Linked DNA regions of Homo sapiens: regions 2, 3, 4, 5, 6 and 7 are each linked to region 1. The links come from fine-mapping of genetic effects on gene expression. A gene starts in region 1. Each other region holds a variant in brackets. All regions are shown on one strand. Distances are from middle to middle.

Region 1 (4,068 bases):
AAAAAGATCAATATCATTAAAATGGCCATACTGCCAAAAGAAATTTACAGATCTAATGTAATTCCTATCAAACTACCAAAAACATTCTTAACAGAACTAAAAACAACTATTTTAAAATTCATATAGAACTAACAAAGAGCCCGAATACCCAAGGCAATGTATACACACACACACACACATATATACACATATACACACACACACACATATATATAAACGACTCATAGAACAAGAAACAGAATAGATAGCCAATAAATAATGCCACAATGCCACACACCTGCAACCATCTGATCTTCAACAAAGCTTACAAGAGCAATGCAGGAAGAATTCCCTATTTAATAAATGAGGTTGGAATAACTAGCTAGCACTATGCAGAAGATTGAAACTGGATGCCTTTCTTACATGATATATAAAAATCAATTCAAGATGAATTAAAGACTTAAATGTAGAACTTAAAATTATATATATATATATATATATATATATATATATATATATATATATATATATATATAAAACCTGAAAATAATCTAGAAAATAACCTAGAAAATTCTAAGACATAAAAACTGGCAAAGATTTTATGATGAAGATACCAAAAGCAATTGCAACAGAAGCAAAAATTGACAAATGGGACCTAATTAAACTAAAGAGCTATTTTGCAGCAATGGAAACAATCAACTGAATAAACAGACAACCTACAGACTAGAAGAAAATATTTGCAAACTATGCTTCTGACAAAGGTCTAAAATCTAGCATCCATAAGAAACTTAAACAAATTTATTTTAAAAAAAAAGAAGAAGAAGAATAAGCCAGGATCTGTGGCTCATGCTTGTAATCCCAGCACTTTGGGAAGCTGAGGCAGATGGATCATGAGGTCAAGAGATCCAGACCATCCTGGCCAACATGGTGAAACCCCATCTCTAATAAAAATACAAAAATTAGCTGGGTTTTGTGTCACGCACCTGTGATCCCAGCTACTCAGGAGACTGAAGCAGAAGAATCATCTGAACCTGGGAGGTGGAGGTTGCAGTGAGTCGAGATCATGCCACTGCACTCCATCCTGGTGACACAGCAAGACTCCATCTCAGAAAACAACAACAACAACAAAAAGAAAACCAAAAACCTAATTAAAAAGTAAGCAAAAACATGAACAGATACTTTTCAAAAGAAGACATACATGTGGCTGACAAGCATATGAAAACAAAATTCACGTTGTTAATTATTAGAAAAATGCAGAGAAAAACCACAGTGAGATACCATCTCATCCAGTCAGAATGCCTATTGTTAAAAAGTCAATGACAGATGCGGGCTAGGTTGCAGAGAAAAAGGAATGCTTATATGTTGTGGGAATCAGGAGGCCGGAGAGATCACTGGGTGCAACAGGAAGGTTTTATTTAGGTGGCCACTGGCCCAGCGGATTAACATCCAAAGGCTGAGCCCTGAACAAAGACAGGGCTTGACTTTTATACATGCATCAGGCAGGGGCAAGTCGGGTTTTTGGCGCAAAACCTGCGAGGTGAGAAAGCAGTCTTACAGAAGCAGAACAAAGGCAGTTAATCATACCGTGACAGGTTTTACAACAGGATTTGCAACATGAGCCTACCTTACTTAAACATGTCTTGTGACCTTGCCATGCTACAGAAAGAAAAACAAGAACTTACAAAATCTTTACAGACTTGCAGAAATAGTTACAAAAATAGTTGTGAGAGCAGAACAAAGAATAATGTTATGGGGAGAGAATTTCAAACAGGGAAACTGATAAGGAGAACTTGTTTTTCTCATCCCTGCTCCTGGAGCCCACTCCTTCGGAGCCCCTGCCTGGCCTTGCAGATAATTATCATAGCTCCAGCAGGACTTTGGAGTGAGTCAGACTGGTCAGGAAAGGACTTGTTTTCCCTTTACTTGTTTTTCCTTTTATATTTCCTGCTTCATTCCCCCCTTTGATGCTTTTTATAAGTAAAGTTTAAGAGAAAGCATCACTATCTTCATTTACTTCAAGAGGAAGTAGCTCTTTTCTTGGCAGGGGTTAATACTTAGTTAGGGCCATTAGTCGTGTGGTAGTCCGTCTGTCCACAAGAGCCTCTATGGCTGTTTGGATATTTTTGACAATGAGGGGTAAGAGACAAGGGAGTATAAGGCAAACTCCCAATATGGCTAGGACTATTTGTACTAAGGTTTTAAATCCTCCAAGGGATGAGAACCAACCTCTGAAAAGGGAATCTGGAGACTATCCTTTCCAAGTCTGAACTGGGATGTGAGCTAACTTTTGGATTTTAGCAGTTATTTCTTTGATGACCTTTCCTTCGTCATCAAGTTCCAGGCAGCAGTTAGTAAGGTTGAACTTTCCGCATACTCCCTCTTCCTGGGCTAGGAGGTAGTCTAAGGCCAGTCTATTTTGATAAATGACATTTCTCATTTTTGTGGCTTGCTGGGCAAGCAGATTCAAGGCCCCTGCAGTTTCATTGGTAATGATTTCTAGTACTGCCTGCAATCTTATAATGCGGTTAAGCATGTAAACTGGGGTGCGGTATCCCCACATTCCATCTTCTGCCCAGGTGGCTGGGCCATAATATTGAATTATTCTTTCAGGAGGCCATTCATTGTCCTTCCAATCTCCTATAGTTATGCCTCTTTTGCTTTTCCTTTTAGTTTCATCATAGATGGGGTATCCTAAGGCTTCTCCCTGTTTTAGGGGCATTAGGAAGAAGGACGGCCTAATTGTCCCCAGTACACAGGCCCCTGACCATTTAGCTGGCAGTTGTCGATATGCTTGTGGCCCACAGATCCAGTAGAGGCCAGAGGGTGCCTGCCAGGTATTTGGAGCTTCAAGTTGGTACCAAGAATGGTTTAAAGATGGGAAACGAGAGAATGGGCTTGGGTGTGGTGATTCAGAATTATTGCTTTTGCCCCTCCATAAAGTCTTTCCTAGTGTCTCGTTGTAATATTGTTGTCCTAGGCAAGTTAACTCTCCTACTGGGTCTGTAAAGGCCTTTCCCCAGCGAGCAATACAGAATTTTCCAATAATGGAGGTTTTTAAGAACCAGATGCTCTGACTTGATGGTGCAGGTTCGAGGGAAGAGGCGGTTAGTGTGAAATTATCTTGGGGCATTAGTTCCCTTGCTTCCCATGGCCATTGGTCTCCCATGTTCATTCCCCCACAGACATAACATGAAGCAACGTGCAGGCTGCTGGCTATGTTTTCAGCCAGTTGGGCGAATAAATTACTGGCCAAGGGAGGGGGCTCAGGCAATTTCTGGTTAACATGCTCATAGAATGACTCAAAAACTCGGAACTGTTGGGTTGAGCGGGTCCGAGTTTTCTTTATGATATATAGATAGACATAGGCTCCTGGGCCAATTTCTTCACCGCTGACTCGTGCCCCTAGCGGTGCTTTTAAACCTGTTGTCCATATGGGCTGATCTGGCTCTAAGATGGTAAGATTTACAGAATTGCAAGTGCTTGTTTTACAATCTGGTTCTAATGGTATTTTGGTAAGCATAATTGGCCCTAGTGATTGTTGGTTAGTGGACCACGTTGTGCAGTCCCAGCAAGTTGTTACTGGGGAATCGGTGGAACAAGCAGGGTGTGCATACCTATTTTTATGGCAGCTACTATAGTACTCCATGGAACTGAAGATTACGGGAAAGAGTGAGCCCATGGATACTATCTGGCAAACATCAAAGTATAAGGATACGACATCCTTGCCAGAGGGAAATACCTTGGTTTGGTTTAGAAGATCCCCTTCCTTTGACCCGACATGAATTTCAAACCAGGTCCCAGGTGAAGACTTAGGGTCATAACACACATAAGGCTGGCCCCTTCCTGGGTCACAGACTGAGTAGGTTGTCTGGTTGTGAGTACAAGTTCCTAGGCAGGTCCCAGCACACTCATAATAAGTGTGATACAACAGGGTTTTAGTCATGATGTTCCCCGACCACGTAGTGTGGGTGCAGTGGAGGCATCCCTCCCAGGGTTCTCCTTTTAACATGGATAAGGGGAGTAGCAAGAACAAAGTGATGAGTAGCATGTTCATACCCAGCATGGACAGAAAAGGCTTTTTCCTGGGGG
Region 2 (4,068 bases), 27 kb before region 1:
GATACACCACATAAACAGAATTTTTTTAAAAAATTACATAAGTATTTCAATAGATGGAGAAAAGCATTTGACAAAATCCAGCATCACTTTATGATTTAAACCATCAGCAAAACTGGCCTACCAAGGACATACCTTAATATAATAAAAGGCATCTATGACAAACCTACTGCCAACATAATACTAAATGGGGAAAAGTTGAAAGCATTTCCTCTGAGAACTGGAACAAGACAAAAATGCTTACTCTCACCACTTCTATTCAACATAGTACTGGACATCCTAGCCAGAATGATCAGACAAGAGAAAGAAATAAAGGGCATCCAAATCACTAAAGAGGAGCTGAAACTAATTGTTTCCTTATGATATAATTGTATACCCAGAAAACACTAAAGCCTCCTTCAAAAAGCTCCTAGAACCAATAAATAAATTAAGCAAAGTTTCAGAATACAAAATCCATGTGCACATATTAGTAGCTTTGCTATATACCAAAAGCGACCACGCTGAGAATCAAATTAAGAACTCAACCCCTTCTACAATAGCTGCACAAAAAATAAAATACTTAGGAATATACCTAACCAAGGAAGTGAAAGACCTCTACAAGAAAAACTACAAAATGCTGCTGAAAGCAATAGATGACACAAATAAAAACACATCCCATGCTCATAGATGGGTAGAATCAATACTCTAAAAATGACCATACTGCCAAAAGCAATCTACAAATTCAATACAATTCCCATCAGAGTACTGACATTATTCTTCAAATAACTATGAAAAAACAATCCTAAAATTCATATGGAACCAAAAAAAAAGCTTGCATAGCCAAAGCAAGACTAAGCAAAAGAAACAAATCAAAAGGCTTCGTATTACCCAACTTCAAACAACACAATAAGGCCACACTCACCAAAACAGCATGGTACCGGTATAAAAATAGGGACATAGACAAACAGAACAGAATGGAGAACCCAGAAATAAACACAAATAGTTACACCCAACTGATCTTTGACAAAGCAAACCAAAACATAAAGTGGGTAAAGGACACCCTATTCAACAAATGGTGCTGGGATACTTGGCAAGCCACATGTAGAAGAATGAAACTTGATCTCATCTCTCACCTTATACAAAAATCAACTCAAGATGGATCAAGGACTTAAATCTAAGACCTGAAACTATAAAAATTCTAGAAGATAACATCAGAAGAACCCTTCTAAACATTGGCTTAGTCAAGGATTTCATGACCGAGAACCCCAAAGCAAATGCAATGAAGACACAGATAAATAGCTGGGACTTAATTAAACTAAAGAGCTTTTGCATGGCCAAAGGAAGTGAGCAAAGTAAACAACAACCCACAGAGCGGGAGAAAATCTTCACAATTTATATATCTGACACAGGACTAATGTCCAGAATCTGCAACAAACTGAAACAAATTAGCCAGAAAAAAAAAATCTCGTCAAAAAGTGGGCTAAGGACATAAATAGACAATTCTCAAAAGAAGATATAAAAATGGCCAGGAAACACATGAAAAAATGCTCAACATCACTAATGATCAGGGAAATGCAAATCAAAACCATAACGTGATACCACCTTGCTCCTGTAAGAATGGCCATAATAAAAAAATAAAAAAATAATAAATGTTGGTGTGGATGGAGTGAAAAGGAAACACTTCTACACTGCTAGTGGGAATGTAAACTAGTACAACCACTATGGAAAACAGTGTGGAGATTCCTTAAAGAACTAAAGGGAGAACTACCATTTGATCCAGCAGTCCTACTATTGGGTATCTACCCAGAGGAAAAGAAGTTATTATTTAAAAAAAAAAAAAAAAACTTGCACACGCATGTTTATAGCAGCATAATTTGGAATTGCAAAAATGTGGAAACAACTCAAATGCCCATCAATCAACAAGTGGATAAAGAAACTGTGGATATATATACATATATATATATATATATGTATGTGTATATATATATATATGTATGTATATATATAATTGAATACTACTCAGAAATGGAAAATCAAACATTGTATGTTCTCACTCATAATTGGGAGCTAAACTATAAGGATGTAAAGGCATCAGGTAAAAGACTACAAATTGGGTTCAGTGTATACTACTCAGGTGATGGGTGCACCAAAATCTCAGAAATCACCACTAAAGAATTTACTCATGTAACCAAATACCACCTGTTAAACAAAATTTATGGAAATAAAAAACT[TA/T]AAAAAAAAAAAAAGACTGAAAGCGAACTCAGTTCATCCAGCCTTGTTTTCTCATTTTGCAGGAGAAAGGTTGGAGACAGTGCCAACTTCACATAGCCTTTAAGAGATCAACTCCAGACCTCAAATCACACCCTCTGACCCCAAGCCAATGGTCCTTTTTTGCCTCCCAGTATTACTCTGTCTCTTCAAACAAGAAGAAAGAGCCAAGTTGAGAAGGAGAGTGGTCACACCCACACCTAGATTCTATTCTCCTGGGCACTGCCTTCCCTGTGGGACCTACCTATTTAATTCCAGTGCTCATGTTATGCCCAAACCCTGGAAGAATGTGACCTTTAAATCTCTGTGCACCCCAGGAACTAGCAGACATTAAAAGTAATAATAATGGGCTGGGCACACAGGCTTGTGCTTGTGGTCTCAGCTATTCGGGAGGCTGAGGAGGGAGAATATGTTAAGCCCAGAAGTTCAAGGCTGCAATGAGCAATGTTTGCGCCATTGCACTCCAGCCTGAGTGCAGAAAAAGTAATAATGACAAAATAAAAAGAGAAATTTACCAATTACTAAGGAAGTCTAGAAAGGCTAGGTGTACCCCCTCTAAATCTAAAATAACAGTTTAAAAATAAAAATATTTTATTGGTAAAAATAAATAAGATAAAAACCACTTTCTTTTTACCCTGAGATAGTATGTAGAACTTGATTTTTGGTTGAAAGCACTTATTACTAAGCCTAACACAAATAATTTGGCAAATGGGTTCTAACAATAATATGTCTCTCATGACTTAAAAAAGCCACTAATTTTACTTTTGAAATATATTTAATTTTTATATTAAAGCTAAGATGAACCTATTATTACATAGAAAATTTGTGGTCTGCATATGCCTCCCCATCCACTGAGTGGTCTACAGTTTCTGAAAGTTTCAGAAACACTAATATAAGAATACTTTTTCTGATTGAATAATTTAAGGATATTGTTTTCTCAGTGACTAAAATGAAATAGATTGGAATTACAAATCAGTCACTTACAATGTAATTTTAAATGTTATTTAATGAACACGTGAAGTTTTTTAAAACTCATCTGAATAACTTATTTCGATTGACTTTTTTCTATTAGAAAATATATTAAAATTTCTGTTACTACAAGCCTATGAATTTTATTCAAATCTAAATATAGTGCTAATCTTAAAAGATCTCTTTGTTTAGGATTATGAAAGCCTATTCTCTACATACACTCAGAAGATAAATAACCGCTTTCCAGTAAACTCAATGGGGCAACTGTGACTCACAATCATAACCTATTAAAATATTAATACTATTATCTAGGTAAAACTTTTAGGTATCTGCATGTTCAGGTTGTTTAACTTATATAATTCAGAAACTATAAATTTTTATAATCTATAAAAACATTTAAAAAGATAAAGTATCAATTTCTTTTTGTCAGTTTTGAAATACTGACATTATTTCTAGTTGACATAACACTAGAATTCAGATGCTGTGGCTGTAGAAAATAGAAATGTCATGGTTTACTTGGTTTTACTTCCTACCTTCCTATTTCACACAAACAAAGCAGCACAAGGGAAGCCAGAAATGCTACACCTTGATTGCAAAAAAACCAGAACCCTTCTAGAGACAATATATGTGTCAGCATAATAACTTGAAATTCATGGCATCTTTTGTTGAAGTAGAGGCTCCAACAAGAGGCTGAATTAATCAACAAAAGGCTGAATTAATTTGCATTCTCACAAAGACTGTGTAAACATTCCCTATTCTCCACAACATGCTATTTTTTTTTTTACTTTTTAATAACAGCCATTTTAACTGGTGTGAGATGGTATCACATTGTCATTTTGATTTAATCTCTTTAAT
Region 3 (4,068 bases), 250 kb before region 1:
CCAGGAGGTAGAGGTTGCAGTGAGCCAAGATAGCACCACTGCACTCCAGCCTGAGTGACAGAGAAAGACTCAGTCTCAAAAAATAAATAAATAAATAAAATGAAAATAAAAAATAACTGCAGTAAAACACATCTCTGAACATTATTTTCTTTTCCACAACTGTTTCTTTACATGTAGGATTCCTCTGCCAAAATTTTTTCATTCTTTTCTTAGCCATTCTCAGTCAGGATTATTTTTCTGACTGTACAGAGAGACTGTAACTGAGCAGGTGCAATTTCAGCAAAGTCTTGAAGAAGATAGGCCTCGGCTGACCAGGTAAACTCTAAGCAATTGTAAATAACTATCTTTTAAAGGTGTATAATTTTTATTTTATATTGATTTACCAGGACAATCACCATTACAAAAAAATCAATTTAATTACGCCAGGCATGGTGGCTCACACCTATAATCCCAGCACTTTGGAAGGCCAAGGTGGGTGGATCACCTGAGGTCAGGAGTTTGAGAACAGGCTGGCCAACATGGCAAAACCCCATCTCTACTAAAAATACACACACACACACACACACCTGGGTGTGGTGGCAGGTGCCTGTAATCGCAGCTACTTGAGAGGCTGAGGCAGGAGAATCATTTGAACTTTGGAGGTGGAGGTTGCAGTGAGCCAAGATCACCCCATTGCACACCAGCCTGGGCAATGGAGGGAGACTCTGTCTCAAAAAAAAAAAATCAATCTAATTACAATATATCTAGAGATTTAACCCACATCTAAATGTTAAATTGACACTACAATATAATATTTAAATCTGCAAAAAGACATTAGAACATGTGGTCAATAATACCATGAGCTGCCACAAGCTTTTAGCAGATAATACAAATGACAATCACCTCTTTATGCCCATACAGGAGAAAAACATACTTGTGCATCTCATATATATCAGAAAAGAGAAAAATGCAGAATTCAATTTGCGGAAAAAGGTTGTTTATACCAGATATATACATTTTACTGATGGTTGTCCAGTATAATTTTTAAGTTTTCTGTATTACATTTTACCAAATATATATAATCCTGTTGCTCACAAGAGAGGAGCAAAAGCTAAACTATTCAAATGGTCATAAGAATTTTTGGAAAATAATATATCGTTAAAAAGAAGTTGAAAGTGTAATAGTTGACCCCTTAGGAATCTTAAATATTCCATTTAATTGCACTTAGATGGCAAGAGCTGGAGTTTTGATTAAGTTGGCCAATTCAAAATCCTCCAGAGAGAAGTTATCAGGTATCAACATTTAAGGCAGATTTTATTCATTTAAAGCATCTTAAGAAGTAACGGAAACTGCAGAAATTAAAGAATTCAGGGCCGGGTGTGGTGGCTCATGCCTGTAATCCTAGCACTTTGGGAGGCCAAGGTGGGTGGATCACCATAGGTCAGGAGTTCAAGACTAGCCTGACCAATATGGTGAAACCCTGTCTCTACTGAAAATACAAAAATTAGCTGGGCGTGGTGGTGTGCGCCTGTAGTCCCAGCTCCTCAGGAGGCTGAGAGAGGAGAATTGCTTAAACCCGGGAAGCGGAGGTTGCAGAGAGCCGAGATCATGCCACTGAACTCCAGCCTGGGTGACAGAGCGAGACTCTATCTCAAAAATAATAATAAATTAATTCAGGATTTCCACTAGTAATAAATTATATTGAAAATGTTGTTAGATTGTGTTGGCCATTTGACAGCTGCTATTTATAACTGTTTCATAAGCCTGCTGAGTCACAGGGGCAGATAAGCAATCACTGTTGTTTACATGTTCCTTTTCAGGCAGCTTTTATTAGCATGCAAATATTATCATCTTCCCAACCACAGACCCCAACATGCAAGATTTTACTTTGTGTCCAAAGGGACAGCCTTGCTTGGTTGCTTACAATCATCATGGTCATAAAGACAAAGTCCCAGTTCCCTGATACCTCTGCTTTCCAATCTGTGCATGAGACAGCCTTTGTGAGGCCCAGCATGGCCAGCTGTGCCTCTCCTTTCTGGTGGAATGTATTAAACACCTTTTAATTGCATTCACCTCCTTTTAATGTGTTAACATCCAGGCGAAATTCATGAGGCCTGCTTTAGAAAAATCATGTTGCAGGCCAGCTGCGGTGGATCACGCCTGTAATTCCAGCACTTTGGGAGGCTAAGGTGGGTGGATCACAAGGTCAGGAGTTCAAGACCAGCCTGGCCAACATGATGAAACCCTGTCTCTATCAAAATATAAAAAATTAGCCAGG[C/T]GTGGTGGCAGACACCTGTAGTCCCAGCTACTTGGGAGGCTGAGGCAAGAGAATTGTTTGAACCTGGGAGGCAGAGGTTGCAGTGAGCTGAGATTGCACCACTGCACTCCAGTCTGGGCGACAGGGTGAGACTCCATCTCAGAAAAAAAAGAAAAATCATGTTGCTGTGCTTTGTTATCAAAAATAATATGGAGGTGGAAGCGCAAAGCAAAAGTAACCAAAACATGGATAGTACTAATTTGTATTTGAAAGTGTATTTGTGAAATATACTTTTACAGAAATATCTTTGCTAGGATGTCAAGGAAGAGGTCACAAAACATCAACTCCAAAATATTCACATAAATTTAACAATTTAGAGATGGTTGTTACTTTTTGTTCTAGATTATTTCTACTTTCAGTAAAGCAAGTATTTATTGTAATACAGAAGCATTGGAAAATTAACACTAATATAACTAATGTCTGAGTCCTGAAGACTTTCCTCTGGAACCTCAGTAAATTTACTTAATCTAAATGGGTCCAGGTGCTGAGGTGATTACCCTTATCTTGTCTCCTGCTGAATCACGGAGGTTAGGGTAGTTCCTTCAGACCCCCAGTAAACTTGTTTGTGGAGGCCTGGGGGTTTCTTCAGACCCACAAAAAAGCTCATTTAATTCTACATAGGTCCTGTTAAGAATTCCTTCATTATTTTGTCATGCTGTAAGGCCCAGGAAAGGCCTAGGGAAAACTCTTCGTGGGCTTTTGTTACATTCCAGCCTTTGTATAAGGGCACTGGTTTTTTTTTGTGGGGGGGGGGGTGTGGGGGTGCTGAGGTTCACTCTTGTTGCCCAGGCTGGAGTGCAATGGTATGATCTCTGCTCACTGCAACCTCTGCCTCCCAGGATCAAGCGATTCTCCTGCCTCAGCCTCCCGAGTAGCTGGGACTACAGGCATGCACCACCACGCCTGGCTAATTTTGTATTTTTAGTAGAGATGGGGTTTCTGCATGATGGTGAGGCTGGTCTCGAACTCCCAACCTCAGGTGATCCACCTGCCTCAGTCTCCCGAAGTGCTGGGATTACAGGTGTGAGCCACCATGCCCAGCCAGGGCACTATTTTTTAATATTTAACTGAACCACTCAGTCAGTACTGAAACAGTTGTTTTGGAGGCCTCTATTAGTAAGAGCTGGACTGCCACAATCCCTACTGTCAATTCATGCATGATTTCTGTCTTGCTTGTGTATTTATTTATCACAAGAATTGGAGGGAGATGAGGGGGTCATAATCCTTCTGGATACTTCCTGCAGAGAGGGGGTCATTGTTATGGGGCACTGAATGCAGCGCTGGAGTGGAAGAGGTCAATTTGTTTCCTATAGCACTCTCTGTTTTGGGGGCTTAGAGGCAGCACCTTCTGAAACATAATAGTATGCAACAGAAGCACGCATAAATAGGTTGCTGCTCTTCTGAAGTTTAAGTCATCTAGTCTTTAGTTCACAGGGCTTTAAGAAAGCACAGCTTGGGTTTTAGTGATTTCTTATTAGGAAAAATGGGGAAACAGAACAATATAAAGCAAAAAGTTAAAAACATTATTTTGGAGACTTGTAGCCAGAAAAATTAGAATTTAATCCAAACTGTAGAAAACAATAAAATTTGAAAAACATCAGGTAAGACTAGAATTTAATCACAGGTGTACTATTGTTTTTGAAACATAACTTCTTTCTCTCCAGTTTCTCAGTTTTACTAAAAGATAAATTGTGGTAGGACTGGTTTGCTTTATTATACTTGGCCTAATTATTGGTATACAGTGCAGCAAGAATAATTATTTTTCACATAGG
Region 4 (4,068 bases), 260 kb after region 1:
AGCTCACTGAAACCTCCGCCTTCCAGGTTCAAGAGGTTCTCTTTCCTCAGCTTCCCGAGTATCTGGGATTACAGGTGTTTGCCACCACGCCTGGTGAATTTTTGTATTTTTAGTAGAGACAGGGTTTCTCCATGTTGGCCACACTGGTCTTGAGCTCCTGACCTCAAGTGATTTGCCCGCCTCAGCCTCCCAAAGTGCTGGGATTACAGGTATGAGCCACTGTGCCCAGCCCCTCTTCATCTACTTCTAACAATCCCTGTCTTCCTTTGGCTCAGGTAAGGCTAATTCTACTCACTGTGCCCCAGAAGGCACATGACTAAAGGATGATTTTATCCTCCTGGCCACAGAGACAGGTTTAGAGACAGGCCTATGACCCAAATCAAGCCAACAAGACTGGTTCTAGGAAAGGCACTCTGCCTTTGTGGGAGTTGCTAAGCTGGTTGACTGTAAGCCAGGAAACTTCTGGGGCCTCTACAGGAAGACAGGCTGCAAAGAATGAAGTCAACCTAGAGAAAAGCAGAGACAAGAAATGGCAGATGTATGAAAAGATGGAAATGGGGAAGAGAAGGATCCTGGATCCAGCCATGCCTGATCCAGTTTTACTCCTGGACTTTAAAATCCCTTCTTGCTCAAGCAAGTATGATTTTAGCTTCTTTTACTTGCAACCAAAAGTCTGGTCAAATACTGGTCAGGCCTCCTAGAGAAAATTGCACTGGAGCTGGCCAGGCAAACAGCTCCACATGGAAAAGGGCTTTCCTACTATAAGAGGCCAGGGAGCTGAGAGGGGGCAGGTGTTGATGAAGGGATTCTTGTGAGTAAGGGGTGAAGGAACAAGTGGTCGAATTCCATGGCCAAACATGCCTCCCTTCCCATCTCTGCAGTCCCAGGACTTGATACAACCCCAGAGGTGGGAGGGACTGAGTTGGGGCACTGTATTTAAGCTGGAGAGTCACATGAAGTGAATGCAGAAGTCAGAAAGCCTGAGGCACTGGGTGGATTGGATCCTGACTAGAGCCAGCCAAGATTTTAGGCAGGGAGCCAATGCCATGAAAGCCCACTCTTGGGACTATGTGTAGGTCAAAGAGAGGTGAGAGGTACCTGGAAAAAGGGCAACTGGTCAGACAGCTATTACAACAGGCCAGGGATGAGGCAACAGGACCAGAACTACAGGAGGGAAGGGAATGGATGGGAAAAAATCGTCAAGAATTTTGGCTCTGAAATCAGGGTAATCTGGATTCCAGCCCCATTGACTAGCTAGGCCATCCTGGACACACGACTCACAGCCAGAAACTCAATTTTCCCCATTTGTAAAACCGGCACAAGACCTACCAGGGTTGCTGTGAGCATTAGAAATAATGGACATCAATGGCTCATGGCAGGTCCAGGGCAGTGGCTAGTCCAGCTGGGACTCTTGTCTTCCTGCCCACAGTGAACCCTGCAGTTTAGTTGAGGTTAAGAAGTGCTGACTAGGCTGCTTGGAGCCAGGCCTCATTGGCCAGAGGTGAGTCAGATAAGTGTCCCTGATTTCCAAGAGCTCATACTCTGATGGAGGAGACAGGAAGAAAAATGGAGAATCTAAACTCGTGGAAATAGCTGGGAAAGAGGATGCAATTGAGGAGAAAGGGTAGGCAGGGCACTGGGGCTAAGACTGTGACCGGCAGAACCAAGGGCAGCAGGCAAAGCGCTTCGAGACTCTGCCTTCCCCCAACCAGATCCGAGGTCTCATCCCTCATAGAAGCGGCTCTCCCCATCCATGTTCAGGCTCTTGCTGCAGCACCCGAAGCGGAGCTCACAGAATACAGAGGCTGCTATGCCTATGGAAGGGTGGCAGCAGGAAACAGAAGCTCTCTGCAACCTGATGCCAGCAAGAAAGGAACAGAAGGAGGGGCAGCGGGAGCCAAGAAACAGCCCAGGACCCAAAACCAGGCCAGCCCTGGACGCAGAATAGGCTCCAGCTGGGACATGGAACAACTGCACCTGTCAAGGAGTGAACCCTCCATCACCAGAGACGGTGAGGCTCTTCCCTCCGGATCCTGGGCTGAGTTCCACCTTTTAACTTTAGTCCTCTCCTCTAAACCCGACAGAAGCACCTTGCTCAAAACTCAAACCTGGCAGCAAGGCCCCTCTCCAACCTAGCTCCAAGCTGGCTTTCGAATCTTCTCCTCCTCCTGCCCTACGCTTTCTCCTTTCCCGGCCTTTGCTCATACCATTCCTTCCACCCACACACCTTCGCCCAATCATTTCCTCCATTTCCCAATCGCTAGGCCCAGTTCCGCCTCCCGGAAGCCTTTCCTCCTTCTGAGACGCTGGGGCCTGGTGAGTTACCTGACTGTTGGGCACCTTTCTGTTAAGATTCTTGTTTTTGTTTTTTGTG[T/G]TTTTTTTTGAGAAGGAGTCTCGCTCTGTCGCACAGGCTGGAGTGCAATGGCGTGATCTCGGCTCACTGCAACCTCTGCCTCCCGGGTTCAAGCGATTCTCCTGCCTCAGCCTACCGAGTAGCTGAGATTACAGGCGCCCGCTACCACTCCCAGCTAATTTTTGTATTTTTAGTAGAGACGGGGTTTCACCATGTTGGCCAGGCTGCTCTCGAACTCCTGACCTCGTGATCTGCCCGCCTCGGCCTCCCAAAGTGCTGGGATTACAGGCGTGAGCCACTGCACCCGGCCTATCTTAGCATTCTTTATATCCGCCCCAGGTACCCGCACATGCCCTGCACACAGCTAACATCGGGGCAATGTTGTGCTCCTCTGTTGCCTTTGCCTGTTCTGTTCCCCCCGCACCTTTTTTTTTTTTTTTAATTTATTTGGTTCCAATCGCCCTCCAATGCCAGCTCTCCATGAAGTCCTGACTCCCTCCTGCACCGCACCTCCCTTGCTGCCTTAAGTCCCGCTGTCCCTGTCACCCGTGTTCCCGTGGCTCTGGGCCCCTGCCACGCCAGGCGTGCTCTTCTGTTTCTGGCTGTCCCACCGGCGATGCTGCGCTTCCACACCACCCGGCGCACAGGCGTTGGTAGATGTGGAAGGTACCAAGAGCGGCAGGAGGAAGGGGCGCGCGGACACCCAGCCCCTTCCCGCGCACCCAGAGCAGGAAGAGCAGCGCGCACCCGGTCAGCGACGCGGCGGGCTCCACTGTGGCGCGCGCACTCCGAGCACGGAGGGCTGCAGGCTCACGCCACCTGGCTCCGCGCCCATCCCAATCCGCACCCGCCGCCCAGGAACCGGGGCTCACCCTCCGCCTGACAATTGTCTCGGGGTGCCGAGGGTCCGTGGCCCGTTGCCCGGGAGGTGACCACTGAGGAGTCGCGCTGGGGATCGGACCAGGAACTCACTGCTTTCATTGGCTGCGGAGGTCAGACCGTCCCACCCTCTTCTCCCCGCCGCCGCGGCAAGGCCAGGGCGAAAGGGACAAGTGCGCTGCTGGGGTCCTCTGCGCTGTGCGGGTCCGGGACTCAGGGTTCCCGGCTGCTATCAAGGCTGCGTAGCTTCCCCCTCCCCTCCTCCTTAGGTGGCAACTTGTGGACACACCCATTAAGCGGTCAGGCGTCAGGTTTCCTCCCGAGAGGTGGGAGGCGCCCTGGCCTTGATTCATCGTGAAGCTAGGCAGGAGATTTCCCAGCCACGGAGGGTGGAAAGCTTGCCTTGACCTCAGCAGGTCATGTCACTCCGTGTGCACAAGGCCTCGAGAGGCACTTTTTAAAAATTTTTTGAGGCGGTTTTCTTTTTTGTCTTTGTCTTTTCTTTTTTTTCTGAGACAGAGACAGAGTCTCGCTCTGTCGCCCAGTCTGGAGTGCAGAGGTGCTTTTCAAAAATTTATTTGAGCTGCGCGGCAGTCCTGGGCGGTAGGTAGTGGTGAATCTCATGTATTCCCGTTGCAATGCCCTACTCCCAAATAAACATCTTTTCTTTGAGAGAGCCTTTCTCTGTTTGTTGTTTAGGTTGAGAGTTTAAAAACAGATAATAAAGCCGGGCGCGGTGGCTCACGCCTGTAATCCCAGCACTTTGGGAGGCGGGCGGATCACTTGAGGTCAGGAGTTCGAGACCAGCCTGGGCAACATGGCGAAAACCTGTCTGT
Region 5 (4,068 bases), 26 kb after region 1:
TGCCCAGGCTGGAGTGCAGTGGCATGATCTCAGTTCACCAACCTCTGCCTCCCAGGTTCAAGCAATTCTCCTGCCTCAGCCTCCCAAATAGCTGGTACTACAGGCATGCACCACCACACCTGGCTAATTTTGTATTTTTAGTAGAGATGGGGTTTCTCCATGTTGGTCAGGCTGGTCTGGAACTCCCGACCTCATCTGATCCACCTGTCTTGGCCTCCCAAAGTGCTGGGATTACAGGCATGAGCCACCTCACCTGGCCAAAAATAACTTTTAAAAAATAAACCAGGTGTGCCAGGTGCAGTGGCTCATGTCTGTATTCCCAGCACTTTGGGAGGCTGAGGGGGGCAGATCACCTGAGGTCAGGAGTTCGAGACCAGCCTGGCCAGCATGGTGAAACGTCATCTCTACTAAAAATACAAAAATTAGCTGGGCATGGTGGCAGGCACCTGTAATCCCAGCTACTCAGGAGGCCGAGGCACAAGAATCACTTGAACCCGGGAGGCAGAGTTTGCAGTGAGCTGATATCAGGCCATTGCACTCCAGCCTAGACAACAAGAGTGAAACTCCATCTTGAAAAAAAAATTAACCAGATGTGGTGGCACATGCCTGTAGTCCCAGCTCCTCCAGAGGCTGAGGTGGGAGGATCACTTGAGCCCAGGAGATAGAGGCTGCAGTGAGCCATGATTGCCCCACTGTACTCCAGCCTGAGCAACAGAGTTAGACCTTATCTCTGAAATAAACAAAAACAAAAAAAAGGCCAGGCGCGGTGGCTCACACCTGTAATCCCAGCACTTTGAAAGGCTGAAGTGGGTGGATTACCTGAGGTCAGGAGTTCAAGACCAGCCTGGCCAACATGGTGAAACCCTGTCTCTACTAAAAAATACAAAAATTAGCCGGGCATGGTGGCAGGCACCTGTAATCCCAGCTACTCAGGAGGCTGAGGCACAAGAATTGCTTGAACCCGGGAGGCAGAGGTTGCAGTGAGCAGAGATCATGCCACTGCACTCCAGCCTGGGCAACAGAGCAAGACTCCATCTCAAAGAAAAAACAAAACAAAAACACTAAAAAGAACATTTCAGCTCTTGTCAAGAGACTGGACATGGAAGGGCAAGAGTTGGAGCAGGACATCTGGTGAGGAGCTGCCACATCAACATCTTTTGATCACCCCAGGCCACGTTTTGAGTGGGGCCTCTACTAGAATGTGGCCCAGCCTCAGATGCCTTAATTCTGACACTCAGTGCCGGTAGAGGCCCTGTGAGGTCACACTGTGGAGGCTTCTTGGGAAAGTGTTGGCTCTAAAATCAACATCTTGTTTCATTCCTTTGATGCTGGAGACAATGACCTCTGTCTCCTCATATGTCTGCTCAAGACTGTTACAAACAGGGTGGAGTGTCTCTTAGTCTAGGAGCTTGGGCTGCTCTGGAGTTTGCACAAACACAAATAATCATCACAGGCTCTCAGGCCATGTGTCTTGGTTATGACACAAAACAGCCCTTCAGCAGTGGACGTCTACATACTGGAAGTTCCCAAACACCTCTTTTTTT[A/T]AAAAAAAATATAGAGACAGGGTATCACTATGTTGCCCAGGCTGGTCTCGAATTCCTGGCCTCAAGAGATCCTCCTGCCTCAGCCTCCCAAAGTGCTGGGATTACAGGTGTGAGCCACTGAGTCTGGCCCTTTTTTGTTGTTGTTTTTAGACAGGGTCTTGCTCTGTCACGCAGGCTGGAGTGCAGTGGCATGATTACAGCTCACTGCAGCTTCAAATTCCTGGGCTAAAGTGATCCTCCTGCCTCACCCTCCTGAGAAGCTGGGACCACAGGCATACAGCCACACCCAGCTAAGTAAAAAAAAAAAAAAAAAAATTTCTGGAGACAAGGTCTCACTATATTGACCAGGCTGGTCTTGAACTCCTGATCTAAAGCCATCCTCCTGCCTCCGCCTCCCACCTTGAACCCCTCTTTTCCCCAGTTTGAAAATGAAATCCACACTTTGAGAAGGAGGAACAAATGGGGAAGACAGGAAGCCAAGAAGCCAACCAGGCTTGCCTGACTAAACACTAAATCCCTCACATTGGTTTTACTTCAATGATACAGCTAATTAAGGGTTGTTGATTTTTTTAAGTTCCTATTTGGCAAGTGAACAGTTTCTTCCTCAGTAAATTTGAACATCAAGTATCTGTTCTGTGATTGAATGAAGCAAATATTTTACACATGGGAAACAATTGTTAAATGATTGTATTATAGAAAGGGATGAACGGGACGGGGGCAATGCAGAGGCGGATGTCAGTGCCTGTGTCCCTGTGCTCCCCACCCACCTCCTCTGTCCCTGCTCCCCATGGTGTTTGTCAAGGGGCATAGTGCGCTGAAGGAGGGGTTACCAGGTGGAATATCCAGAAGACATCATTCTCGGCTACATGGAATCCACTTACTTTGATCTAATTTCTTTACTCATAGAATTCATTAAACATTCACATCAGCAGCTTCTGAATATCTAAGCCAATTGTTAAACATAGTGATGTTACTGGATTCTTAAAACAAGCTGGAGGCCGGCCGGGCACAGTGGCTCACACCTGCAATCCTAACACTTTGGGAGGCTGAGGGTGGATCATCTGAGGTCAGCAGTCAGAGACCAACCTGGCCAACATGGCGAAACCCCATCTTTACTAAAAAAAATACAAAAAAATTAGCCGGGCATGGTGGCAGGCCTGTAATCCCAGATACTCTGGAGGCTGAGGCAGGAAAATCGCCGGAACCCTGGGGTCAGAGGTTGCAGTTAGCCGAGATCGCACCACTGTACTCCAGCCTAGGTGATAGAGCGAGACTCCGTCTCAGAAAAAAGCAAAACAAGTTAGAGAAGGGTTTTTTTTTTAACTTCATTTTGAAATTGTGAAGACAGGCAGTGAGAGTGAGTGAGTTGTCCAAATTCAGGCCGCAAGCTGGAGAGCATGCGATTCCTGGCCTTTTGCAGCCAGAGTGTGTGGGCCAGCTGTGTGGTGGTGTGCACTCCCCTCTCCGTCTGGTATATGGCAGTATATATGGTATATACGGTATATGGCACTACCATATACCAGGTCTGGCCTTGTCACCTGGAGACCTGGGAGTCTTCTTTTGTTTTCCCTGACTTTTGTCACCAGATCTGCTTACTTACAAGTCCCGTTGGTTGTGCCCCTCCCAGCCTTTCCCGTCTTCCTCCTTTTTATCTTGGTCATTATTTCAACCCAGCTAGAATCATATCTGGCCCAGATTACTGCATTAGTTCCTAGTTGGAGTCCTTTAAACTCTCTTTTTTAAAAAAAGATGGCTGAACATGTGGTTCCTGCCTGTAATCCAAGCACTTTGGGAAGCTGAGGCAGGAGGATCACTTGAGGCCAAGAGTTCAAGACAACCCTGGGCATCAGAGTGAGACCCCCATCTCTACAAAAAAAATTTAAAGTTATCTGGGTAAAGGAAATAATGTATACAGTGGTCCATTTCCAAGACAAAGTGCCTTAAATCAGATTAGGTCAGCAAACTACAGAAGAAACAGGGTATACACGGCTCGGCATGGTGACTCACACCTGCAATCCCAGCACTATGGGGGGCCGAGGTGGGTGGATCATGAGGTCAGGAGATCAAGACCATCCTGGCTAACACGGTGAAACCCCGTATCTACTAAAAACACACACAAAAAAATAGCTGGGCGTGGTGGCGGACACATGTAATACAAGCTACTCAGGAGGCTGAGGCAGGAGAATGGCATAAACCTGGGAGGCGGAGGTTGCAGTGAGCCGAGATTGCGCCACTGCACTCCCACCTGTATGACAGAGCAAGACTCCATCTTAAAAAAACAAACAAAAAAAACCACCTAAAGCTCCTACCCAACAACCAATAGGTGACATCCAGGAAGATTGTGACCCCATAGTACTCAGCCTATGTATAAGGAAATGGGAGGGACCTGCACACAAGAGGATAAATTGCTTGTTGAAACTGTTCTGAGTGTGCCTGCCTATCAGACACCCGATCCTGCAAGACCATCGTTAAAAGTCTTACTTTCGCTCTTCTCTGGGTATCCGAGTCCATTCTTTGTGTTTGG
Region 6 (4,068 bases), 32 kb after region 1:
AAAATAAAAATAAGTCAGTAAAATAAATAAATAAAAATACAAAAATTAGCTGGGCGTGGTGGTGGACACCTGTAATCCCAGCTACTTGGAAGGCTGAGGCAGGAGAATCACTTGAACCCGGGAAATGGGAGGTTGCAGTGAGCCAAGATAGCTCCATTGCACTCCAGCCTGGGCAACAAGAGTGAAACTCCATCTCAAAAAAAAAAATTTTTTTAAATATATATATAGTGAGAGAGAGACAGAGAAAGTTTACCTCTACTTGATGAGCCAAGTCTCTTCAGTGTGTGAAAAATAAATGCTTTTTTTTTTCAGGCACCCCAGACTTCTGGGAAAGGACCTTGGAGCTGTGCCCAAGCATCCCAGCCTTTGCCCTCAATTGCAAACAGAGTGGAGTGTCTCTTAGCTAAGAAGTTTGTGCTGCTCAAGGGTTTGCACAAATACAAAGTTGAGAAATACTCCTTGCTGAAAGGGGTGTAAAAGGCAAAGGACAAACCGGTTGTCCTCTGAAGTGGAGACATTTCTATTCTATGTTGGGCTATGATCTTGGAGAATGCAGGCAAGGAACGAGTTTCGCTGGTTTTTCAGTGAGAGACCCCTTGTAGTAAGAGAGGCTCTTCTCTCTCTACCTGGTGAGTTATTTTCATCTCTTTGGTACCCATTTCCTCATGTTTAAACTTAGGAGTGAAACCACACGTCCCCTAAGATCCTTTTCTCTTAGCTGTTCTGTGAGTTAATTAATGAGATTTGTTTTCCCATTAGCATATATCCAAAAAGGTAATCAGGATAGGTTTTCCATGTTTCCTGGAATCTTGTAATTGCCCCAAATGAAGTGGGAGTATTTGGAGGAGAATCCCTTCCTTGCTTCCTTTATTTCATTTTTAGAGACAAAATCTCTCTGTCACCCAGGCTGGAGAGCAGTGGTGCAATCCTGGCTCACTGCAACCTCCAATTCTTGGCCTCAAGTGATGCTCCCATCCCAGCCTCTGGAGTAGCTGGGACAACAGGCTCACACCACCATGCCGAGCTATTTTTTTTTTTTTTTGAGACCGAGTCTCGCTCTGTCGACCAGGCTGGAGTGCAGTGGCGTGATCTCGGCTCACTGCCTCACTGCAAGCTCCGCCTCCCAGGTTCACGCCATTTTCCTGTCTCAGCCTCCTGAGTAGCTGGGACTACAGGCACCCGCCACCATGCCCAGCTAATTTTTTGTATTTTTAGTAGAGACAGGGTTTCACCATGTTAGCCAGGATGGTCTCGATCTGCTGACCTTGTGATCCGCCCGCCTCGGCCTCCCAAAGTGCTGGGATTACAGGCGTGAGCCACCACACCCGGCCAACCAGCTAATTTTTAAAATTATTTTGTTGAGACAGGGTCTCACTATGTTGCCCAGGCTGGTCTCAAACTCCTGGCCTCAAGTGATCCTTCTGCTGCAGCCTCCCAAAGTGCTGGGATTACAGGCATGAGACATTGTGCCTGGCCCTTCATTGCTTTTTAATAACCTTAATTCTTTTGAATATCTTTAGAACTACAGTGGTTTTGTCTTTTGAGGCTAGAGTTGATTTCCATAAATAGTCATTTTGAGCCAGGTCTTTTGAATAAAGTGAGTGGCCAGAGAAGATGCCACAACTTTGGCGAAAAGAGTTTCCCAAGGATTACACCATGAACTCTAAAATGCTGTGTGCCGGTCACTGGGCCACAGTTCACTCTTCTTGCCAAATTCAGAATTGCAGATGAGAACTTTATTTTATTTTATTTTATTTATTTATTTAATTTTTTAGACAGAGTCTTGCTCTGTCACACAGGCTGGAGTGCAGTGGTGTGATCTCAGCTCACTGCAACCTCCGCCTCCCGGGTTCAAGAGATTCTCCTGCTTCAGCCTCCCATGTAACTGGGATTACAGGCATGTGCCACCATGCCCAGCTAATTTTTGTAGTTTATTTATTTATTTATTTATTTATTTTTTGAGATGGAGTCTTGCCCTGTCACCCCAGCTGGAGTGCAATGGTGCGATCTCAGCTCACTGCAACCTCTACCTCCTGGGTTCAAGTGATTCTCCCTGCCTCTGACTCCTGAGTAGCTGGGATTACAAGTGCCCACCACCACACCCGGCTAATTTTTGTATTTTTATTAAAGACAAGGTTTCACCATGTTGGCCAGGCTGGTCTCAAACTCCTGATCTCAAGTGATCCGCCCGCCTTGGCCTCCCAAAGTGCTAGGATTACAGGCATGAGCCACGGCACCTGGCCTAATTTTTGGACTTTTAGTAGATAC[A/G]GAGTTTCACCATGTTGGTCAGGCTGGTCTCCAACTCCTGACCTCAAATGATCTGCCCACCTTGGTCTCCCAAAGTGCTGGGATTACAGGCATGAGCCACTGTGCCCGGCCGATTTTTTCTGATATCAAAGGAATCACCAAGGTCTTCCCTTTCTTTTGATTCATTTATTTTCTTGGTTCTGAAATATTTTTTAAAATATGGAATGCTTCATGAATTTGTTTGTCATCCTTTCACAGGGACTATGCTTATCTTCTCCATGTCATGCCAATTTTTGTATATGTGCTGCCGAAGTGAGCACTGGTTCTGGATTGATTGATTGATTTGTTTGTTTATCTGTTTTTGAGACAGGGTTTCACTGTGTCTTCCAGGCTGGAATACTGTGGTATTATCGTGGCTCACTGCAACCTCTGCCCCCCAGGGCTCAAGCAGTCCTCCTGCATGGGCCTCCCAAAGTGTTGAGATTACAGGCATGAGCCACTGTGCCCAGCCTGGAATGTTTAACTGCTGACTTTGATGCCTGGTTTTGGTTGTACTAGACATTCCCACTACTTTTTTCTTTAAAAAGTACTGGTTTCTTTAGCTCCTTAAAAAGATCTTTGGTGTTTTATATATCAAAATATGTGAGGCCAGGTGTGGTGGCTCATGCCTGTAATCCCAGCATTTGAGGAAGCCAAGGTGGGAGGATCTCTTGAGCCCAAGAGTTCAAAACCAGTCTGGGCAACATAGTGAGACCCCTGTCTGTATAAGAACTAAAAAATTAGCTGGGCACGATGGTGCATGCATGTAGTCCCAGCTCTTGGAAGGCTGAGGCAGGAAGATCGCGTAAGCCCAAGAGGGTGAGGCTATAGTGAGCCATGATCATGACACTGCAGTCCAGCTTGGGTGACAGAGTGAGACCCTGTCTCAAAAAAAAAAAAAAGATTAATAATTGCAGAAACATTTTCTATGCTCCAGATTACTTTAAAAATTGGACCTAATCTTGGCCAGGCATGGTGGCTTACACCTGTAATCAGCACTTTAGGAGACCAAGGCAGGTGGATCACTTGAGGTCAGAAGTTGGAGACCAGTCTGGCCAACATGATGAAAGCCTGTGGGTGAAAGTAAAGTTGGGTGCAGTGGCTCTCCCTGGATTCCTTGATGCTTTTAATACCCTGAGTCCTCTACCCCACTCTGAGCCACACTGACACTTGTGCACCAAGGTGCGTGGTGTGGCCCCAGTGCCCACAGGATCGCTTGTAAGAACTGCTCCTTCAGCCCCCACCTGTGGCCTTTCCTCCAGGGTGAAGTCTGGTTCCTGATGTTCACACCATGCTCCTTCTCACCAGGGTGCACGGGCATCACTGCCTACAAAACATTTGATTGAAACCTGTTCCTTGGGGGGCCACCTTACCTGTCCAGGATGGCTTTCTCTGAAGCCAGTTCTCCCACCACAGTGGGAAGTAAAGAAAATTATGAAAATTGGCCAGGCATGGTGGCTCATGCCTGTAATCCCAGCACTTTGGGAGGCCAAGTGGGACAGATCACTCAAGGTCAGGAGTTCGAGACCAGCCTGGCCAACATGGCAAAACCTGGTCTCTAATAAAAATACAAAAAATTAGTCAGGCATAGTGGTGTGCACCTGCAATCCCAGCTTCTCAGGAGGCTGAGTCAGGAGAATTGCTTGAGCCTGGGAGGTAGAGGTTGCAGTGAGCTGAGATCATGTCACTGCACTCCAGCCTGTGCGACAGAGCAAGAGACTCTGTCTCAAAAAAAAAAAAAAAAAAAAAGAAAAGAAAAGAAAAAGAAAATTATGAACACTC
Region 7 (4,068 bases), 130 kb before region 1:
CCAGAAGTTTAGACGGTGCCTCAAAAATAAAAATTTTAAATTAAGTTCTTAATCAAATGGAAGATTTAAGCTGAGATCATTTTTATTGATTCAGAACAGTGCTGGCTGGGTGCAGTGGGTCATGCCTATAATCCCAGCACTTTGGGAGGCCGAGGTGGGTGGATCACCTGAGGTAAGGAGTTCCAGACCAGCCTGACCAACATAGAGAAATCCCATCTCTACTAAAAATACAAAATTAGCAGGGCGTGGTGGCGCATGCCTGTAATCTCAGCTACTCGGGAGGCAGAGGCAGGAGAATCGCTTGAACTTGGGAGGCAGGGGTTGTGGTGAGCTGAGATCACATCATTGCTCTCCAGCCTGGGCAACAAGAGCGAAACTCTGTCTCAAAAAAAAAGAAGAGGAAGAAGAAACAAAAGAAATGTGCTAATGGAGAAGCATGGTGATCAAAGCCAAAAACTTGAATTTAGATCAGTAATTTTGCCATTGTCTTACTGATACAGAAAAACAGTATTCTGGCCATATGTAGGTATTAGTCTCTACAGTTAAGTACATTTACTTCAGATATTTGTAAAAATATAAAATCGATTTTTTAGTATTAAAAATTAAGGTATACTGGCCAGGCGTGCTGGCTCTGCCTGTAATCCCAGCACTTTGCGAGGCGAGGCGGGAGGATCATGAGGTCAGGAGATCAAGACCATCCTGGCTAACATGGTGAAACCCCATCTCTACTAAAAAAAAAAAAAAAAAAAAATTAGCCGGGTGTGGTGGCGGGCGCCTGTAGTCCCAGCTACTTGGGAAACTGAGGCAGGAGAATGGCGTGAACCCGGGAGCCAGAGCTTGCAGTGAGCCGAGATCGCTCCACTGCACTCCAGCCTGGGTGACAGAGTGAGACTCCATCTCAAAAAAAAAAAAATTTTTTTTGGTATATTGAGGAAAGAATATGTTCTAACTGATGTAACTTGAGATTTCTCATAAGATGTTATTGTCTGCCACACAAGAAAATTGTAAAATATTTTCCTCAGGTATATGCTGTTGATATTTGTGCATTTTGGAAAGATATTATATATTTGGAAATCTTTAAATATAAAAATAATTTACATGCTAAAATTCTGAGAAAGTTACAAGAACCTTTAAAATCCTGAGTAGAATATAAAGAAACATATGAGAACTTTCCAGGTACAAAAGAAAGCCAAAGGAAGAATCCAGAATGTAATTAAACTAAGAAGCAATTGTTCTTCTTAGATATGGGTGAACACACAAATAAAAAATTTCTGTGGGTTGTCCAACTTGCCATTAGACAAATGAAAAAATAACAACATAAGGGAGGAGGGATAGCATTAGGAGAAATACCTAATGTAAATGACGAGTTAATGGGTGCAGCACGCCAACATGGCACATGTATACATATGTAACAAATCGGCACATTGTGCACATGTACCCTAGAACTTTTAAAAATCACCCTAAAAAAAAATAAAAATCCTTTTCTACAAAAATAAAAATAAAAGTAACAACATAAACTAACTGCAGACATTGCAAACGTAATATCTTTCACAAGCGAGAAACAAATTACAACTTATATTACCCACAGTTACAGGACTTAGGTTTAAAATGTTTAATCCAACACAATGGGGAAAACAGAAAATATACCAATAATGTGAAAAGTACAAGAAGCTACAAGGGTGACAAGTCATATTTGTTTGTTTTTTGTGCATGTGGGGGTTTTTTTGTTTTGTTTTGTTTTTTTGTTTTTTGAGACAGAGTTTCACTCTTGTCGCCCAGGCTGGAGTGCAATGGCATGACCTTGGCTCACCACAACCTCTGCCTCCTGGGTTCAAGTGATTCTCCTGACTCAGCCTCCCAAGTAGCTGGGAATACAGGCACCCACCACCATGCCCAGCTAATTTTGTATTTTTAGTAGAGACGGGGTTTCTCCATGTTGGTCAGGCTGGTCTCCAACTCCCGACCTCGGGTGATCCACCCGCCTCGGCCTCCCAAAGTGCTAGGATTACAGGTGTGAGCCACCACACCCAGCAACAAGCCATATTTGAAAAACAGCCAGCCTTTCCTCAGGCGTCCCGCATCTGCTGATTCCTCCTTCCTGGTCACTGCGTCCTTGGCTGGCATCAGAAAAGTGGCTACAAACTTCCTAGTACATGAGAAGATCTGGTTCAACAAGTTAAAATGTGACAATGCAGAAAGGAGATTCTTCAAGCAGATGAACAAGGCTGTGGCCAGCACCTCCCGCCAGGAGAACGGCGCCAGCATGATCCTCCATGACATTGCGAGAGCCAGAGAGCATTTCCAGAAATCCCTGGCCAGAAGCTCAGGCCCCGGGGCCTCCAGCAGCCCCAGCGGAGACAAGGCTGAGCTCATCTTTCAGATCACCAGTCTGGAAGTGGAGAACCAGAGCCTGCGCAGGGTTGTGCAGGAGCTGCAGCAGGCCATCTCCAAGCTGGAGGCCCCACTGAAC[G/A]TGCTGGAGAAGAGCTTGCCTGGCCACCACAGCCCTGCAGACCCAGCACGAGTCTCCTATGTGCCAAGTGGAGCCCCTGGCCAAGAAGCCAGCCAAACCAGCAGAGGATGACAAGGACGATGACATTGACCTACAGGGGATAGGCCCCCAAATCTGGCCATAAATTGGCCCCAAAACTGGCCATAAACAAAATCTCTGCACTACTGTGACATGTTAGTGATGGGCATGACAGCCATGCTGACAGTTGTGGGTTTACCGGAATGAGGACAAGAAACACCTGGCCCACCCAGGGTGGGAAATCCACTTAAAGGTGTTCCTGAACTACAAACAATAACATGAGCGACCTGTGCCTTAAGGACATGTTCCTGCTGCAGATAACTAGCCAGAGCCCATCCCTTTGTTTCAGCCCATCGCTTTGTTTCCTGTTTTAGTTAATCTATGATCTATAGAAACAATGCTTATCACTGGCTTGCTGTCAATAAATATGTGGGCAAAACTCTGTTTGAGGTTCACAGCTCTGAAGGCTGTGAGTCCCCTGATTTCCCACTCCACACACTATATTTCTGTGTGTGTGTCTTTAATTCCTCTAGCGCCACTGGGTTAGGGTCTCCCCAACCAAGCTGGTCTTGGCATTGACCTGTTTGGCAGTGACAATGAGGAGGAGGACAGGAGGCAGTACTGCTGCGGGAGGAGCGGCTGCGGCAGTACACAGAGAAAAAGGCCAAGAAGCCCATGCTGGTGGCCGAGTCGTCCATCCTGCTGGACATTAAGCCTTGGGATGATGAGACTAACATGGCCCAGCTGGAGGCCTGTATGTGCTCCATCCAGCTGGACAGGCTGGTCTGGGGGGGCCTCTAAGCTGGTGCCCGTGGGCTATAGTATCCAGAAGCTGCTGGTTCAGTGTGTAGTGGAGGATGACAAGGTGGGGACAGACTTGCTGGAGGAGGAGATCATCAAGTTTGAAGAACACGTGCAGAATGTTGACATTGCAGCTTTCAACAAGATCTGAAGACTGAGTGTGAGTGTGTGTGTGTGTGTGCACGCGTGCATGTGCTTGAGGCCCCGCCATGATTAAAAACTGAGACCGGCAAAAAAAAAAAAAAAAAGAAAAGAAAAGAAAAAACAGCCAAATGTGAAGTAAACAATTGAAAATATAATCAGTCTACTTAATATACAACATATGTGTGAAACATTAAATTAGTCTGAAATGATGAGAAGATTAGTGAACTAGAACACTAAGCAGTAATTAATTACTGTAAAGACAAAAGGAGAAAAGTTATATTAACAAAATCTAAAATATACATGTATGACAGGGAGCATGAGATGGAGTAAAACAAGTCTGATTATTTTTATAGAATATATTTTCAAAATCAAAGTCAGTATTCAGAGTTGGTGACTCATAAGTTTCTAAAATTGAAAAGCAGACATAATTACTTCTCAGCCTTTTGGCTAAAATCAAGTGAAAACCAGATATAAGTGCTTGAATTCAAATGTGCAGTGTTCCAAAAAGAGAAAAATAACAAAATTAATTCCTTAAAATAAAAAAATAAATTACTTAAAACGGGCTGCATAACACCAAGGAGAAGAAAAACACTACA

The links.
Region 2: its variant is fine-mapped to the expression of ZNF117 in whole blood (INTERVAL, PIP above 0.99).
Region 3: its variant is fine-mapped to the expression of ZNF117 in whole blood (INTERVAL, PIP above 0.99).
Region 4: its variant is fine-mapped to the expression of ZNF117 in whole blood (TOPMed, PIP above 0.99).
Region 5: its variant is fine-mapped to the expression of ZNF117 in whole blood (TOPMed, PIP above 0.99).
Region 6: its variant is fine-mapped to the expression of ZNF117 in whole blood (TOPMed, PIP above 0.99). The same link has a PIP of 0.9 or more in blood mononuclear cells and lymphoblastoid cells.
Region 7: its variant is fine-mapped to the expression of ZNF117 in tibial nerve (GTEx, PIP above 0.99). The same link has a PIP of 0.9 or more in prefrontal cortex and thyroid.

Annotation. Positions count from the first base shown.
Region 1 is chr7:64,988,985-64,993,052 of GRCh38, forward strand. It overlaps ZNF117 (zinc finger protein 117), which reads right to left and starts at 2,052. Exons shown (of 4, transcript NM_015852.5): 1 at 963-2,052. The region is part of intron 1 of ERV3-1-ZNF117 (ERV3-1-ZNF117 readthrough); the gene reads right to left. ERV3-1 (endogenous retrovirus group 3 member 1, envelope) reads right to left here. Exons shown (of 2, transcript NM_001007253.4): 2 at 1,372-4,068. The coding sequence starts at 4,042. The coding sequence ends at 2,228.
Region 2 is chr7:64,961,957-64,966,024 of GRCh38, forward strand. No RefSeq gene overlaps it. Among named protein-coding and RNA genes, the nearest start is that of ZNF117, 27 kb to the right of the region's middle. The variant TA/T (reference allele first, on the strand shown) is at 2,208.
Region 3 is chr7:64,743,147-64,747,214 of GRCh38, forward strand. No RefSeq gene overlaps it. Among named protein-coding and RNA genes, the nearest start is that of ZNF138, 49 kb to the right of the region's middle. The variant C/T (reference allele first, on the strand shown) is at 2,258.
Region 4 is chr7:65,248,978-65,253,045 of GRCh38, forward strand. LOC124901661 (a long non-coding RNA gene) reads right to left here and starts at 3,439. Exons shown (of 2, transcript XR_007060366.1): 1 at 3,326-3,439. RefSeq lists an enhancer at 1,284-1,877. The variant T/G (reference allele first, on the strand shown) is at 2,375.
Region 5 is chr7:65,014,858-65,018,925 of GRCh38, forward strand. The region is part of intron 3 of LOC105375330 (a long non-coding RNA gene); the gene reads right to left. Among named protein-coding and RNA genes, the nearest start is that of ERV3-1-ZNF117, 10 kb to the left of the region's middle. The variant A/T (reference allele first, on the strand shown) is at 1,545.
Region 6 is chr7:65,020,744-65,024,811 of GRCh38, forward strand. All of the region lies in intron 3 of LOC105375330 (a long non-coding RNA gene), which reads right to left. It also overlaps the pseudogene RNU6-1229P. Among named protein-coding and RNA genes, the nearest start is that of ERV3-1-ZNF117, 16 kb to the left of the region's middle. The variant A/G (reference allele first, on the strand shown) is at 2,269.
Region 7 is chr7:64,860,892-64,864,959 of GRCh38, forward strand. It overlaps the pseudogene EEF1DP4. Among named protein-coding and RNA genes, the nearest start is that of ZNF273, 40 kb to the right of the region's middle. The variant G/A (reference allele first, on the strand shown) is at 2,471.